Linked DNA regions of Homo sapiens: region 1 is linked to region 2. The links come from fine-mapping of genetic effects on gene expression. Tissue or cell type: tibial artery. Region 2 holds a variant in brackets; the other region holds the start of a gene. All regions are shown on one strand. Distances are between the middles of the regions.

Region 1 (8,210 bases), 110 kb after region 2:
AATTCAATAAAGTTTCAGGATACAAAATCAATTTCAAAAATCAGTAGCATTTGTATACACAATAATGAAGTAGCTGAGAAAGAAATTAAGAATGCAATACCACTTATAATAGCTACAAGAAGATAATGAAATACCTAGGAATAAATTTAACTAAGATAAAAGACCTGTACAAGGAAAACTATAAAGTACTGGTGAAATAAATTGAAGAGAACACAAAAAAATGGAAATACATTTCATGCTCATGGATCAGAAGAATTAATATTGTTAAAATGGCCATGCTGCCCAAAGCAATCAACAGTTTCAATGGAATCCCTATCAAAATACCAATGTCATTTTTCACAGAATTAGAAAAAACAATCCTAAAATTTTCATGGGGCCAAGTAAGAGCCCAAAAACCAAAGCAACATGAACAAAAAGAACAAAGCTAGGGGCATCACCTTACCTGATTTTAATATATATTACAAGACTTTAACTAAAACAGCATAGTATTAGTATAAAAACAGTTACATAGACTAATGGAATAGAATGGAGAATCCAGGCCAGGTGCGATGGCTCATGCCTGTAATCCCAGAACTTTGGGAACCCGAGGCAGGCAGATCACTTAAGGCCAGGAGTTTGAGCTCAGTCTGGCCAACGTGGCAAAAACCCGTCTCTACTAAAAATACAAAAAATTAGCCAGGCATGGTGGTATGCACCTGTAATCCCAGCTACTCAGGAGGGAGAGGCAGGAGAATCGCTTAAACCTATGAGACGAAGGTTGCAGTGAGCTGAGATTTGCCTCTGTACTCCAGCCTGGGCAACAGAGCAAGACTCTCTCTCAGGAAAGAAAAAAAAAAATAGAGAATCCAGAAATAAATCCATGTATTTACAGCCTACTGATTTTTGACAAATGTGCCAAGAACATCCATTGGGGAAATGACAGTATCTTCAATTAATGGTGATGGGAAATTTGGATATCTACATGCAGAAGAATATAGGTATCTTCTATCTAAGCCCCTATCTTCACTACATCACATATTAATTCAAGGTACATTATAGACTTAAACACTTAAAACTATAAAACTACTAGAAGAAAACAGAGGGAAAACTCTTCAGTACATTGGTCCGGGCAAAGATCTTACACCTAAGACCTCAAAATCACAGGCAACAAAAACTAAAATAGACAAATGGTAGCATATTAAACCAAAAAGCTTCTGCATATCAAAAGAAACAACCAAGAGAGTGAAAAGACAACCTGTAAAATGGGAGAAAATATTTGTAAGCTATTCATCCAACAAGGCATTAATATCCAGAATATCAAGGAACTCAAACAATTCAACAACCAAAAAAAACCCCACAAATAATCATATTAAAAAGTGGGCAAAGGATATGAACAGATATTTCTGAAAGTAAGGCACACAAATGGCCATATACAAATGGTATATGAAAAAATACCCAACATCACTATGCATCAGAGAAATGCAAATGGAAACCACAATGAGATATCATCTTACTCCAGTTAGAATGGCTGTCATTAAAAAGATGAAAAATATCAGATTCTGGTGAGAATGCAGAGAAAAGGAAACTCTTAAACACTGTTGATGGGAAGGTAAATTAGTACAACCACTATGAAAAATAGTATGACGATTTCTTTAAAAACCAAAAAATAGAACTACCATACAATCCAGCAATCCTACTTCTGAGTATTTATCCAAAGGAAAAAGAAATCAGTACATGAATATGTGCACTTGCATGTTTATCTGAGCCCTTGTCACAATGGCAATAGGACAATAGCACTATCCAAACATCCATTTCTCTGTTGATAGACACTTAGGTAGAATCAATTCAGTAAACAATATAACCATGAGCACTGTCTCATGGAATTTATAGTCTAAGTGAGGACAATAATCAATAAATGATTCAATTATTATAAGCTATGAGTCCACCAAATGAAGTATTGCAATATGGGATGAGAGGAGTGGAACCTACTTTAGATAGGGTGATAAGTAAGACCCTTCTGAAGAGAGGACTTACTTCTAAGGTAAGACTTGAAAGGGAATAAAAACATTCATTCAAAGAAAGATTAGAAGAACAATTCAGGAAGAAAGAACAGCATATCATACTAAAGAATGAACTGAAGAAGGCCAGAATGTCTGTAGTCCAATATGTGAGGGGGAGAGTGGCAGGAGATGTTGCGGGAGCTCATCCATTTTTCATCAATATTCTAGGAAACATAAATCACTGGGAGAGGACACACTATGAAAATAACTCTACTCACACACCAGTCTGCTTTAGATAGGCCCTCTCCTTTACACCTAAATAAATATTTACAATTTGAGGGAAGAAATGGAATCAGCCTAAGCATAAGACATGAGGACTCAGAACTTGTTGGTTCCTCATCCTCCAAGCTCCAACCACAAGTTGTTTCTCCCTTTGCCAAGATATCTGGAATTTCCAGACTTGCAATATTAATGCACAGCCCTGTACATGGTCTTATATACCTATGATGACAGCCCAGTCATGAAGCTAGAGAAATGCAAAATAAGAAATTTTGCTAAAATTCTTTAGCAAAAGCTAAAGAATATGAAGACTAAATCTGAGGGAAACCCTAAGGTATATTGGATTTAACCATTATTGAAGACATAAAAAGGTTTAGTCAGAAAGTTTCTGGTGCTTCTCAAGGAATTAGTGACAGCTTTAGAGTGTGAAGACCACATTTCTTGAGTGTTCAGACTTAAAATTCTGTCTTTGTGTAAGACCTTTCAGACTCTGTTTGCTGAAGAAAGAGACTGAAATGTAAGACCTAGAAGTCATATTGTAACATTGCAGGCTAACCAGGTGTTGAGAGACCCCTTGCTATTTATTTAGCCATGTTGTAATGCCCTTTCCAATCCCAAATTCATTCTTGCTTCTAGAAGATTATTGAAGTGGGACTTGCGAGACATATAGTCTCTTTCAACAAACAGCAATATAATTCTTCCTTTACACATTCCAGGGAAGAAAAAAAAAATATCCTTTCCAGCTGGTACACAGGCTGTGATGCACTGGAACTACCTGAATCCTAACCGCCAAAAGGGCACCAGGGAGGATTTTAATATATGCAGTACGAGTGTGTCAAAAACAGCATCTTACGAGAGATTTAATCTGTTCATTTGAAAGAGTGCGGTACAAATGGTCCCGTGGGGCTCACCTCCAGGGCCGCCAACGATTTCACACTTGATGAGAATCAATATGTGTGCTTGGTCTTGACTACAAATATTTCATTAGAAGCTGAGAAAAGGGCCCCTGCTACCCCATTTTGCTTTCTTCCCGGCTTTACTGGTCCCAATTTCTTCCACGTCAGAAATGCCCATCACATTTCATATAAAAGAATGTATCCAGCAAATTAAAAAGCTAGAGACCTCAAGTTGAAATTAATACTTACAGGGTAACAGGTGTCTCACATTTTAAAAATCCTGGCACTGGTTTACAGCAGCATAAGAGTGCCCTTTGTGCTGTTTCCTCCTCTAGCAGAACTGCTCCAAACACAAGGACTGAGGCCGCCAGTCTCTCAAGAATGCCTAACGTGCCATAGGGTGGCCTCCTGGAGACATGAATACTCTCTTGGGCCCGAATTAGAAAACCTTGACCAGGACAAGTAGAAGCAAATGCACTGTCAGCCATGGGCTATTCTTATCCCTGCAGTTGTTGCCCATCTTCAAAATGGAGACAGCGAGACTCATGCTGTCTGAAGACCCTAAGACAGGCTTGACACAGGGTCCCTCTGTTTTTTTTATCCCACCCAATGTCATTCATTTTACTTTGGAAGGCAGTATTATTTCTTCTCCCTATCAAACTTTGTATTAAAGCATAACATACATTTGGAAAAATGCAGAAATCTTAAGTGTACAACTTGATGAATTATCACAAAGTGAACAAATTCATGTAACCACCAGCTCCTTCAACAAATTCATGTAAACACCAGCTCCTTCACTACCTGACCTTCCTCTCCACTACCCAACACTCCTCTCTACTACTATCCTGTCTTCGAATACCATCAGGTAGTTTCTCTTGGTCTTGAACTTTATATAAATGGAACCATAACACTGTGTGACACTGATCTATCTTATTACATGTACCTGTAGTTTGTTCATTCTTATTGCTGTGTAGTGTTCCATCACAAGGATATATGATATTCTATCCATTTTATTGCTAATGGGCATTTGGGTTGTTTCCAGTTTTGTGCAATTATGAATATCATTGCTAAAAATGTTTATGTACATTTTTTTTGAGACAGAGTCTTGCTCTTGTTGCCCAGGCTGGAGTGCAATGGTGTGATCTCAGCTCACTGTGACTTCTGCCTCCCGGGTTCAAGCAATTCTCCTGCCTCAGCCTCCCAAGTAGCTGGGATTATAGGTGCCCACCACCACACCTCGCTAAATTTTTGTATTTTTAATAGAGACAGGGTTTTGCCATGTTGGTCAGGCTGACCTCGAACTCCTGACCTCAGGTGATCCACCCACCTCAGCCTCCCAAAGTGCTGGGATTACAGGCGTGAGCCACCGTGCCCAACCTATGTACATCTTTATGCATATACATACACATTTGTGGGGGACACATGACTATGAGTGAAATTGTTGGCTTTTAAGATATGCACATGTTTAGTATTTATTCTTGGCCTTTTTGTCCTGGAGGGTGCTTTCCACTTAATTTCCCAGAAAAATATCAGCTGCCAAAATCTCTTTTGCCAGTTTGTTCTTGGAACTATGCTAAATATTGTAGGATGATGGTGAGTTAATGGGCAGTCATTGCCCTTGGACATTTATGCTCTCAATTCCTTCTCAGGAGGCAACCAAGAAGGATTTCTGATCAATAGTCTGACCATTCGGTTACTGTTTTCTTACTGCCACAGCCCCTTTTCTTGAGGTAGTCTCTGCATCGTGTGCCCTTTCTTGCCATGGTCTGGGATTTTCTGTCCCTTTCATACTCCCTCTCTCTTGCCAGAATCACATACTACAGCATCAGAATTACCCAGTGAAGCAATCTCTGAGCAATTTTAATCACTATAAATGTCCTTCCTTGAGAAATCCTACACCCCCACCTCCAGGGGAAGCAGCATGTTAACCATGTAAAGAATCACGCTGACTCAATTTCTACATGACTTACTATCTGCTTCATAAAACAAGATTCCGGAGCACTGGTTCCAGCTTGGCCCTGGATATATCATGACCTCTAACAAGGTAACTCTGAGAGCAAAAGAAGAAAAATACCAGTCTTCACTTACACAAGTATTGGATTTATTAACTGTTAAAGAAACAATACTAGTTAAAAACTTAGTGACGAAAGGAGTGTAAACATTTTAAAAAATCATCTTTATTATCCAGTCCCAGTCCTTTATCAAGTTTGCACTTAAACACCCATTTATTCTTAAAAGGAAACAGTTTACATTTTAAAATATTTTTGGAGTACCTCATAATCCCCAGTTAGAAAGTTATTTATTTTTAACCGAAAATTATTTCACTCATCCCTGTTAGTTTCATATAAAGAACAGCTGACGACTATTCTCTTAATAGCAACATTTTATTAATTAAAATTGCTTTTAAGCCACCTTTTTCTTCCTTCAACTAAGTACTGCCAAAGCCATTAACTTTTCAGAATGGGTTCTAATAGTCAATTTTGTTCATCCTCATTCTCTCTTCTAACTATTCAAATATTCAAATTCTTTCTCTTGCTCAGATTTTGGGGCTCCAAACTGTCTTGAATCATTTAAGTATATCTGCCAACACCAAAACCCGTAACATTCTTTCATTCATTTATTCATCCATTCCATTAAAAAAATGTTTTCAGCTTACTGTGAGTTGGGAGCTGGAGAGTCATTGGAGAACAAGAAAGATGAGTCCCTGATCTGATAAAGCTCACTTCCTAAATGTATTAGAAAACAAATAAAAATTCAAAAATTATAAAGTCCATGAGAATAATAAAAACAGATGCTAGACTAAGTAATAACCAGAGGAGGGGTTACTTAATATAGCATGATTCCATTAGGTCTTTCAGAGAAAGTAACATCTGGATTAAAATCGAAGTGATCTTAGGTAGTAGCCATGAAAGAATATATAGAAAAAGTGTTCTGAGAAAATAGTACAGCAATGTCAGGCCCTTAGGAGAGAAGGTCAGAATGGCCAGAATATAACCAAAAAGGTGGAGAGAACTCTGAGAGGAGTTCAGGGAGACAGGTGGAGACTAGATCAAATCCAGCCTTGTTGGCCATTGTTAGGAGTTCATCTTGTAAGTTCCAAATGTGATGATTCCATTAATGAATAATGACATACATAAACTTTTCTCAGATAAGTGCTAGGCTTATGATCAGTTATTGTGCATTCTTCCAATTTGTGATTTACAGTATACCCAAGATCTCCCTGCCTTTGGCATTGCTAACATTCCAGTAATTCTTTTGCTTCTTTGAGGCCCTCTTCTTCTGAAACATAACCTTCAGTTGGATCTTTTTTTTAAAATTTATTTTTGAGACAGAGTCTCACCCTGTCACCCAGGATGGAGTACAATGGTGCAATCTCAGCTCACTGCAACCTCTGCTTCCTGGGTTCAAATGATTCTCCTGCCTCAGCCTCCAAAGTAGCTGGGATTACAGGCACCTGCCACCACGCCCAACTAATTTTTCATATTTTAGTAGAAACAGGGTTTCACCATGTTAGCCAGGCTGGTCTCAAACTCCTGACCTCATGATCCACCTGCCTTGGCCTCCTAAAGTGCTGGGATTACAGGCATAAGCCACTGTGCCTGGCTGGATCATTTTTTTTTAACAAGGCAAAATTTAATTCTACTACAACTGAATAGCTGAGGTGTGATCCTTGTTGTTTTTCACATGTCATTATCCTTCCCTTAGTCATTAGGAAGCAGTAGGGTTTAGATTTCATTAAAACCGGGTTCTACTTCTGTTTTTGACACTTTTTTTTGTTTTATGGGTGTTTTTGTTTGTTTTTTGAGACAGGGTCTCACTCTGTTGCCCAGGCTAGACTGCAGTGGAACAATCGTGACTCACTGCAGCCTCCAACTCCTAAGCTCAAGCGATCCTCTTGCCTCAGCCTCCCTTCAAGTAGCTGGGACTATGGGTGTGCACACCACGGCTGGCTTGTTTTTAACACTTTTACTGTGGGTAACTAGCATGTAACTTTACCTCTGAGTCTTTTTATCCATAAAGTGAAATAATACCTACCTCAGAATTGTTGTGGGGATTAAAGGACATGGAATACGTTAACCCTCAACAGATGGCCACTAATAATATACTTTTCAAAAAGCAAAAACCATAGAACTTTGCAGTAAAAATGAGATGCTGGGATCTTACCCTATCCATTCCTCTAATTTTGTATTTAAGCCTCTCTGAAGCTAAAATAATTGTCAGTAGTCACACAGCTAGTAGCTAGACGTAAACCAGATCTCACTAAATCAATATACTAATAGAAAAATAATTCAACCACCTACTATTTGCTTTAGCTTTGAGGTTGGGCTTTATGAACTCCATAATTATTCTCTGAATCAATCACAAATGCAGCCTGATTCTTGAGGCAAGTTGAAATTGGAAAAATGTGTGGTCTAATAAATGCTACTTATTAGGGCTTGGGAGATTCAGAACCATGAACTCTACTTTTTACTCAATTTGTTAAGGGGGAAAAAGCCAATAAGAAGACATAGTTTCTATATAGATCTCATCCACCAAATGTGGATTGTGACTTACAGACAGCTCAGGGGAGGAAATAAACCTTAGCTGACCGAAGAACTTTGGTAAGCAAATTATTGGAGATAGTGGATGTGTCAACTTAGGGCCCAAATCTAGAGGAGGAACTGTGGTGTCGTTAAATAATGTGAAAGCCACTTACTTCAACTGCTTACTATTGGAAAGTTTTCAAGTAGATATCATACACACATGAACTGATTTATGTAAATGTAAGGGGAAAAAATCCTGAGTCTTAATTGAAGGTTTGACAAGTTGGCTTTTACATATGGTTGTGCTCATATTTAATCTTTATTGTTGGCTTTTTAACTTTTTTATTTTATTATTTATTTATTGTATAAGCAAAGTGTAGTCACAGAAGAAAAATAAAAATATAGATTAGCAAATAAAATTAACTCATAATTCTACCACTCAGAAATAACTATTAACACAAGTATGCACACACAGACACACACATGTTAATTCACACACTTAAATTCTTATTTTGCTCTATGACAAAGTGAAT
Region 2 (8,195 bases):
CTTGATTTTGTTAGCTTTTTTCAGAATTTATCTTTCATTCAGTTCCCTTCCATTATCATTTACTTTTACTTAGAAGTATCCAAGGAAGTCTTTTAACTTTAATTTCCATTTCTTCCTAAAGGGAGAGTGAGTGATATGTACAGTGTTTTGAGATTGTATACATATATTCCAGAACTTGGAGGAAATCTTATTTAAGTTTATGAATATAACCATCTGTTACTGTTCTAAAAATGTTTAAAAGAAACTCAATACAGATAAAGATAAATATGTGACTATTATTGGGTATTACACTTCACTTCTCTTTAATATTTTTCCTCCAACTGGAGGGCAGACAATTTTCTGACTTGCTTTTCTCTAGGTGGTTCATTTTGAAAGGGGACAGAAATATAACTAAATGCTTCCAGGAGAAAAATTCCAAGAGTTACAATCTGGACTTGGTACCTAAATATCATTTTTTAAATTCTTGATGCCTATTTGGACTAGAGGTAAACATACTTTCAGATTGGCCTGTTTTTGTCGGTAAGGCATACAGCCTTCAGAAGCCAACATTTTTAATCAAAAACTTATAAAACATGATGATCATTGTGAAAATTCTGAGTTGAAGGTTAGTTTAAGATAAGCTAACAATAACAGTCTGTGTTTTCTCTAAAATAATCTGAGTTTTTTGGAACTCTTTATTTAAATATGTGTGTTTTTCAGTATTCAAATAAGATCAGGAAGCCAATTTTCTATGTATGAATATGCTTTAACCTAGGATTTCAGTCCACTCTGACTGACTTTCTAAACTTTAACTTGGGTTTTTACAGTGACTATGCATTAGTGCTGACTCTTTGGTATAAGCCATAAAATATTTTCCTTCCTATCAATTTATCTGAACTTTGGTCTTTTCACTAAATTGTACAGTATTCTACTTCTGTTTAAAAAGGGGAGATGAGAAAGGGAATACTATCTAACCAATAACTTGAACAAAAACACTAAACTAAGCATTTAATAGAAATGCTTTTTATTGAGGAGGTATTATCCAGAGTTCATGCTTAGAACAAATGCATCTTTGCGTATCCTAGACTTAACAATTCATCAGTTTCTGAGACCACAGAATCAGGTTTTCCGTAGTAGATAAAGACTCTCTGGTGCTTCAAATTCTGTTCAAGTGTTTTGACTCATCAGCTTCTACTCTTTCTATTACTGCCTTTGCCTGGCTTGTTTTGTCTCTTTGCAACTGATTTTGCAAAAAAAAATTGTAGCTTTAAAATAACAGGGTCTAAGTATTTTAAATGTGCCTATTTCACAGCTCTCTTGGTCACAAAAACATGCTATTTTTATTGGAACTTCAAACCAAATCCCCACTGAGTGTGTACTGGTTCCTGCAGGTAGCAGTCTCCTATTATCTCCTGTTTAGCACCAAAAGAGCTAATATTATTGGAAACTGACCTTTTAAAGGCCACTGGCAGTAGGATTTAAAAAGCAGCCCACTGCTCAGTTTCCAGGATCAGCTTCCTCCTTCTGTCACTTGTGTAAGTTGGCACTACCTTGTGCCTCTCAGATTGCTGAAGTGCTGCTGGTAAGCATGTGCATGCTCTGCCTTTCTTGTGAAAGTTTTCAATCAGCGATATCAGCACTTACAGTAAGAAGTAAAAGTAGTGCACAGCAAAGCTAATTTGCCTTTGCCTGGGGTGTTCAGCTTGAAAGAATAAAGCTCATTTGGTTTAGTTAAATGTCTTACTCTACTGTGCCTATGCTTTTAGCTGCGTTACTAAGCAAGGGAAAAATAACAGTTTCTCTGAGCCAGAGAAGACTTGATCACAGTTCTCCAAGCATCGTGATAGCAATGCTTAACCCCAGGAAGATTTCAAGGCAGGGAGAAGAACATTTCAAATAAGATTCTTGTTAACCCATTTATGCCTAGTGTTCCATTATTGGAATGCTAAGCTTGTGGGAGTCATTTACATCCTACTGCTCAAAGTCATTGCCAAGGTCTGATTTTTCACACAAAAAATTGCAACCCCCAGCATAAATGGGTTAGCTACTGTCATCAGTTAGCAAATTCATCCACACAAACACAATTAGAGTTTGGTTTTTTTTTAAGCTTTTCAAAACTTACTAAACTGGCACAATTTTATATGTATGCTATTTGTTGTATTTATGCTTAAGAGCAAAAAAGTTTTGATGGGATTTTAAATTCAGGCAAAGCCTACAACGCTGAGACAATCCCCTAACAACATGGTAGTAACTAAAGAAACTTTTATACTAGGCTTCTTAGTTTTAAAAGGAAGTGGCATCATTGTTTCAGTTCTAGTTTGTATTTTTCTCTCAGATATTTTTCTTCTTTAAAAATCTTTCCCAGAAGTTGGTTCCTAGAAAACTCAATACCATCATCTCTTATCTCTATACAGGGACTAGGTAATAAAACCTTCAAAGGTTGTCAAAGGTCATCAAGCAGTGTTCATTTATCCTGTCACATGTTTCTGTTTCTATAGTAATTTAGAAATTGCAAATAGTTAACTTTTCATCATGTAAAAAGTTAACATTATCCTATTTCCATAGATACCATGGACGGCGGTGTGGCCTGAGTTGTCAGTCTTTAATCCTGAGTCATGTGGCTCTCTTTTCATCTTTGATGTCAGTTCCAATTATTTGGCATCAAAAACCTTCATGGTAGGTAGAGTTTTAGGTAAAAGTGGATCTAGGGTTACTTTCTTTATTAACATTTCCTAAATAACTGAATTGAGAGACATACTCTGCTACTATGTCCTCAGGTTAATTTTTGTCTGATCTTACGATGCCCTGCCTTTTACTAGCTACTTTAGAAATAGAAAATGTGAAGAGTGACTATTTACATGTATACTCCTTTGGCTGCTAGAACTCATCTGTAGTCCTTTATTATTTACACTGAATTCCAATTTCATTTCTGCTTCCGCTAAGTAAGAGCACCTCATTCCTGTGTTTTCTCTACTATTGAGCTGTAGACGAACTGTTTCTCTAATTATAAAGCAAACTGTTTGGGATATTCAGGGAAACTACCCCAATGTTATGTTGTCATTTAATGGGAAAGGCTGGGATCATATGTATTTCTATGTTCTGTAAAGTATTTGACTTACTAGTTCTCAATAAAATTTTATTAGGACTATATATCATCATGTGCTTTTTGTTTGCTTTGGTTTAAACTTGAGAAATATTTTCCCTCAATGGCAAGTTATTGC[G/A]GGATCTGGCCAGCAGCCCGCAATGCAACGGGGCTCTCTCTTTGTTCCCAGGCAGATTGGTAGGTTGAGAAATAATAGACTCACACAAGATAGTGAAAGCCGCGTCCAGGGGGGTCACCGCCTTCTGGTTCTGCGGTGCCAACAATGCGCTGGATATACCAGCATTTATTATTAAGTTTAGTGAGGGCAGGGGTAGGTTAGTGAGGAATTTAGGGTCATTTGATTATGAGGTGAGATGGTCACGTGGGGATGAAGTAATGCTTTAACATAACATTTGTATGCAGAAGTACAGTATACAGGGATAAGAATTTACAATATAGTGTGTGCATCAGTAATTTCTAACAGAGCCTTAAAACAGAAACACATTCTTTCCATAACCTATGATTAGCAAGATATTAATCAGCAGTAACAGTTGCAGCAAAAGCTGGTTACAGACAATCCATAGAAATAGGACGTGAAGCTAGACAACTGGTTAGACCAGAAATTCTCAGAAGGGAGTATGCCTTAACCCTAAAGAGGCCTAGAAGAGCCATGGCAAGATGAGGGCATTTATAGCCCTATCTTATCCATATGGACAGGCGCCCCCCCATGCGTCCATTTATAGGCTCTCCACAAGGGTCGCATTCCATTCCCAGAGCTATGAATATCTGCTTTTCTGGGATAGGAATCTTGGTGATGATGTGAAACCTCCCTGACTGCAGATCCATTCATAGGCTATCTGCAGGGGGAAGCACATTACATGCTGTTGGCTCATACTGGCAGTCCAACCTGGCATTGTCTTTACACAATCCTGCATGCAACTTTGTATTTACAATAATCAGGAGCATTTCATCTTTTATTCCGTAGCAGTAGTTTCAGGGGGTTCTCCCTACAGCAAGTGAAGGTTTTTTTTCCCTATATATACTCCTGTTTCCTAGGCTTTGCTCCTTTTTCTTCATTGTTGGATAAAACAAGATTTGCACTACTGTCTGAAAATAGAGATTTATAAGAGGAAAATATTTTTAAATCTGATCATTATAGAATTAGGAGGAATCTACTAGCCTTCAAGAACAACATGTATTAACCATCTCATAATATATGAATCTACTGTGGGGTTAATAACTAAAGGCCTAATTCTAGAAATTTATTTTCCTGATGATCAATTCTGCTTTGAATAGAAAAGGGGGGGATTAAATGAGGCATAATTATAAAATATATATGCAGAGGTTAGAAAAATTTTGCTGAGTCACTTGGGATGACTTTGTGCCACTGCTTTTTATGACACAGCTAGTTAGTGTGACTTACCACAACAGAGATTGATAAATTATAAAATACTTGTTTTCATCTCTAAATTACAATTTGTGTGCTGGTACATATGATTAAAATGTCCTTCATACCCAAAGTCTGTTTATTGAGTGACTGATAATACTGAGGATAAATGCAGAGTTACATTTATTTCTCTCATTTGAATGAAGTAAAGGTATGGTAATATCAAGACTCTAGATGTAGGCAGTGAGGCATGGAGAGGACACTACCTTGCAAAGGCCACACAGAGATTGCAAAATGATGCTTAGAAAGGTCCTGCTAACTCTACGAGGTTAGTTTCCATTGGCAAGGCCAGCTCTAGTTTACCGCTCCCTGGCTTATCCTCCTACTATGAGAAAAATAATGACAGGCACAATAAGTTGCACCACAGTTGTAACCTCATGAATGAAGAAAACTTCAAAATATTTGTTTTTTGTGACTTACCTGTAGTATATTTTTTCCTAATTTTGCATTGGAAAAGATCTTAGCCTTTCTCCTCCTCTTCAGCCTTTCTCCTCCTCTTCACACTCTCTGAATAGAAAAGAATAATAATTTTTATGTCATTCTTTTTTTCCAAGATAGTTCCCACTGTGGATTCAAAGTTATTAAAATTCTCATGTCTTCTCTATTCTATTAAGCATCATTTAAACTGAAAACCTACAAGTCAGTTCCCTGAAAATTTGCTTTCTCATTGTTTCTCATCCAAATTTGCCCTCTTCCTTCTAAAGCTGTGGGTCAATTAACAAAACGAGAACTCAGGCTTGTTTTTATCTTTTTTTTGTAACAATGACAAACGTATTGGCTTTATTGGTCCCATGATGTAAACTGTCTAAACACTATTGTCCAGAAGCCCTGTGCTAGTGCATCCTCAGGGACTTATTTGGCAGTTTTGTGAGTAATAGGAGAAGGCAGCAAAGACAATAAGCCAAGAGCTGAAATAATGAGGATTGAGAAATGGATCTTAGCAGGGCTGCTGCTCATAGTCGACCAGTTCAATTTCACATTTCTACATTATGTTAACTTTTCAACCACGTGAAAATTACAACATGGTAACATTAAGTCTGCAACTAATGTTCTAATACTCAACAAGTAAGTGTTAGACAAAGCATTTGTGAGGCACTTAGTCATGTAGGGAGACACGAGACTTTATTATAAGTCAGTTTATAAAATAGTGTTCCAATTGCCTAATTTCTCTTTGATGGAGCTGGGATATTAAGAAAGGCATTTATAAACCAGAAAATACTGATGTGGCTCACTGTGAAAGATGATATTGTTTACTCAGGATTCAGCATTCAGAAATAAACATGCCCTCCCTTGCTGATGCAATCTGAACTGCTGGCACTTTCAGTTTTTATGATGCAGATATGCCATTTTATTAATCATACCATGACCAATGCCTTAAAATCATTTATCCCCAAAATTCATTAAACATGCTATCTTTATGTGCAAGGTACTGGCTAGGGGATCTGTTTGCATAAGGTAGACATCTCTACTCTGGCAACTCAGTCTGGTGAAGACAGGTGACTGGATAAGCAATTGCAAGGAAATGTATTATAATAATCCTATCACCACTCCAACTACTCTTCCCATTATTCCATAACTTCATGTATATTGGGTCTCTCATATGGCCTGCAGTTTCTATCTATGGAGATGGAGTTTAGAACTCTAATAGGAAGAAGACAACTTAAAAGCCAATCAGCCAGCCCAGAAGCACTCAGAGTTCTTTCATTTGGACTACCTTGATGATGAGCAAGGTGGAGGGAAATTTGAAGACAAAGAGTCCTTTGCCCCCTGTTGCAGGAAGTCAGGGACCTTGAATGGAGGGACCGGCTGAAGCCATGGCAGAAGAACATAAACTGTGAACATTTCATGGACATTTATTAGTTCTTTAAAGTAATACTTTTATAATTTCTTACACCTGTCTTTACTGCAATCTCTGAACATAAATTGTGAAGATTTAATGGACACTTACCACTTCCTTAATCAATACTCTTTTGATTTCTTATGCCTGTCTTTACTTTAATCTCTTAATCTTGTCATCTTCGTAAGCTGAGGCTGTAGGTCGGCCTAGGACCTTGTGATGATTGCATTAACTGCACAAATTGTATGTAGAGCATGTGTGTTTGAACAATATGAAATCTGGGCACCTTGAAAAAAGAACAAGAAAACAGCAATGTTCAGAGAACAAGGGAGATAACCTTAAAATCTCGCTGCCTGTGAGCCAGGTGGAACAGAGCCATATTTCTCTTCTTTCAAAAGCAAATAGGAGAAATATCACTAAATTCTTTTTCTCAGCAAGGAACATCCTTGAGAAAGAGAATGTGTCCTTAAGGGGAGGCCTCTGAAATGGCCGCTTTGGGAACGGCTGTCTTTTACAGTCATAGCTAAGGGATGAAATAAGCTTCCGTCTCCTGTAGCACTCCTAGGCTTATTAGGACGAGGAAATTCCTGCCTAATAAATTTTAGTCAGACTGGTTGTCTGCTCTCAAACCTTGTCTCCTGATAAGATGTTATCAATGACAATGCGTGCCTGAAACTTCATTAGCAATTTTAATTTTGCCTTGGTCCTGTGGTCTTGTGATCTCACCCTGCCTCCATTTGCCTTGTGGTATTTTATTACTTTGTGAAGCATGTGATCTCTGTGACCTACACCTTATTTGTACACTCCTTCCTTCTTTGAAAATCACTAATAAAAACTTGCTGGTTTTACGGCTCAGGGGGCATCACAGAACCTGCCGACATGTGATATCTCCCCCAGACACCCAGCTTTAAAATTTCTCTCTTTTGTACTCTGTCCCTTTATTTCTCAGAACGGCCGACACTTAAGGAAAATAAAAAAGAACCTACATGAAATATCGGGTGAATTTCACCTGATATCTGGCGCCCCACATGGTCTTTTTTTCCTAAGTGCATGTGGAGTAATGAGAGATACCCCATACTTTCAATATAAACCTGCAGGAAAACCATGCCCTAAAAATTTTGAGGGCCCATCTAAAACTTTAATTTGGGAAGACTGTGTTTTAACTCACATGGAGTAGTATTAAAAAATGACTCATATGGCTTAGTAATAGACTGGGCACCAAAGGGCTATTTAAAAAACAATTGCTCCTCTGGTGGAAGGGAATGCCTGGAGCCTACTTATTTTATTTCTTATCGGGAGAATGAGAATCATCATTCTACTTTGCATAGGAGGTTCAGCTCATTCCCTTAAAATGGGAAGATAAAGGCATTACCCCCACGAGGCCTCATATGATACTCCCCATTCTGAGCCCAGAACACCCAGAACTTTAGAAATTGGCTATTGCCATGTTTAGACTGTGAGTATGGGAAGGGGAAACTATTATGTCTGTTGTCCCCACTACCGTCCCCCACTCTCAGTATCAACGTAGATCCAGACGTTCGACTTCACTTACCTCCAACCTGACTGTTCACATACAGAGTTGTGTTACGCTTCCTTACATGCTGTTAGTGGGAAATATCAAAATTTGGATGAACAATCAAACTGTCCAATGCATTAATTGTCATTTATACACTTATATTAACTCCCATTTTGACTCCAAGAAAAGTGTAATGCTGGTTCAAGCTCGAGAAGGAATCTGGATTCTGGTAACTTTGCCCAGAGCTTGGGAATCCTCCCCCTCAATACATTTAATTAATGAAGTGTTACAGCAAATTCTAAAAAGATCTAAGAGATTTTTTTTCACTTTAATC

Direction of the effects. Positions count from the first base shown, and alleles are read on the strand shown. Sizes are in standard deviations (SD) of each study's normalised expression.
With allele G in place of A in region 2, the expression in tibial artery of the gene that starts at base 3,526 in region 1 is lower (small effect, 0.29 SD a copy in GTEx).

The links. PIP is the estimated chance that this variant, and not a neighbour inherited with it, causes the effect.
Region 1: it holds the start of LANCL1-AS1, and the variant in region 2 is the best candidate, but not a certain one, in a credible set for the expression of LANCL1-AS1 in tibial artery (GTEx, PIP 0.77).

What each region holds. Positions count from the first base shown.
Region 1 is chr2:210,320,028-210,328,237 of GRCh38, reverse strand. It overlaps LANCL1-AS1 (LANCL1 antisense RNA 1), which reads right to left and starts at 3,526. Exons shown (of 5, transcript NR_110606.1): 1 at 3,404-3,526.
Region 2 is chr2:210,426,185-210,434,379 of GRCh38, reverse strand. It overlaps LANCL1 (LanC like glutathione S-transferase 1), which reads left to right. Exons shown (of 10, transcript NM_006055.3): 10 at 1-3,129. It overlaps LANCL1-AS1 (LANCL1 antisense RNA 1), which reads right to left. Exons shown (of 5, transcript NR_110606.1): 2 at 4,929-5,015. Among named protein-coding and RNA genes, the nearest start is that of LANCL1, 46 kb to the left of the region's middle. RefSeq lists an enhancer at 3,859-5,058. The variant G/A (reference allele first, on the strand shown) is at 3,201.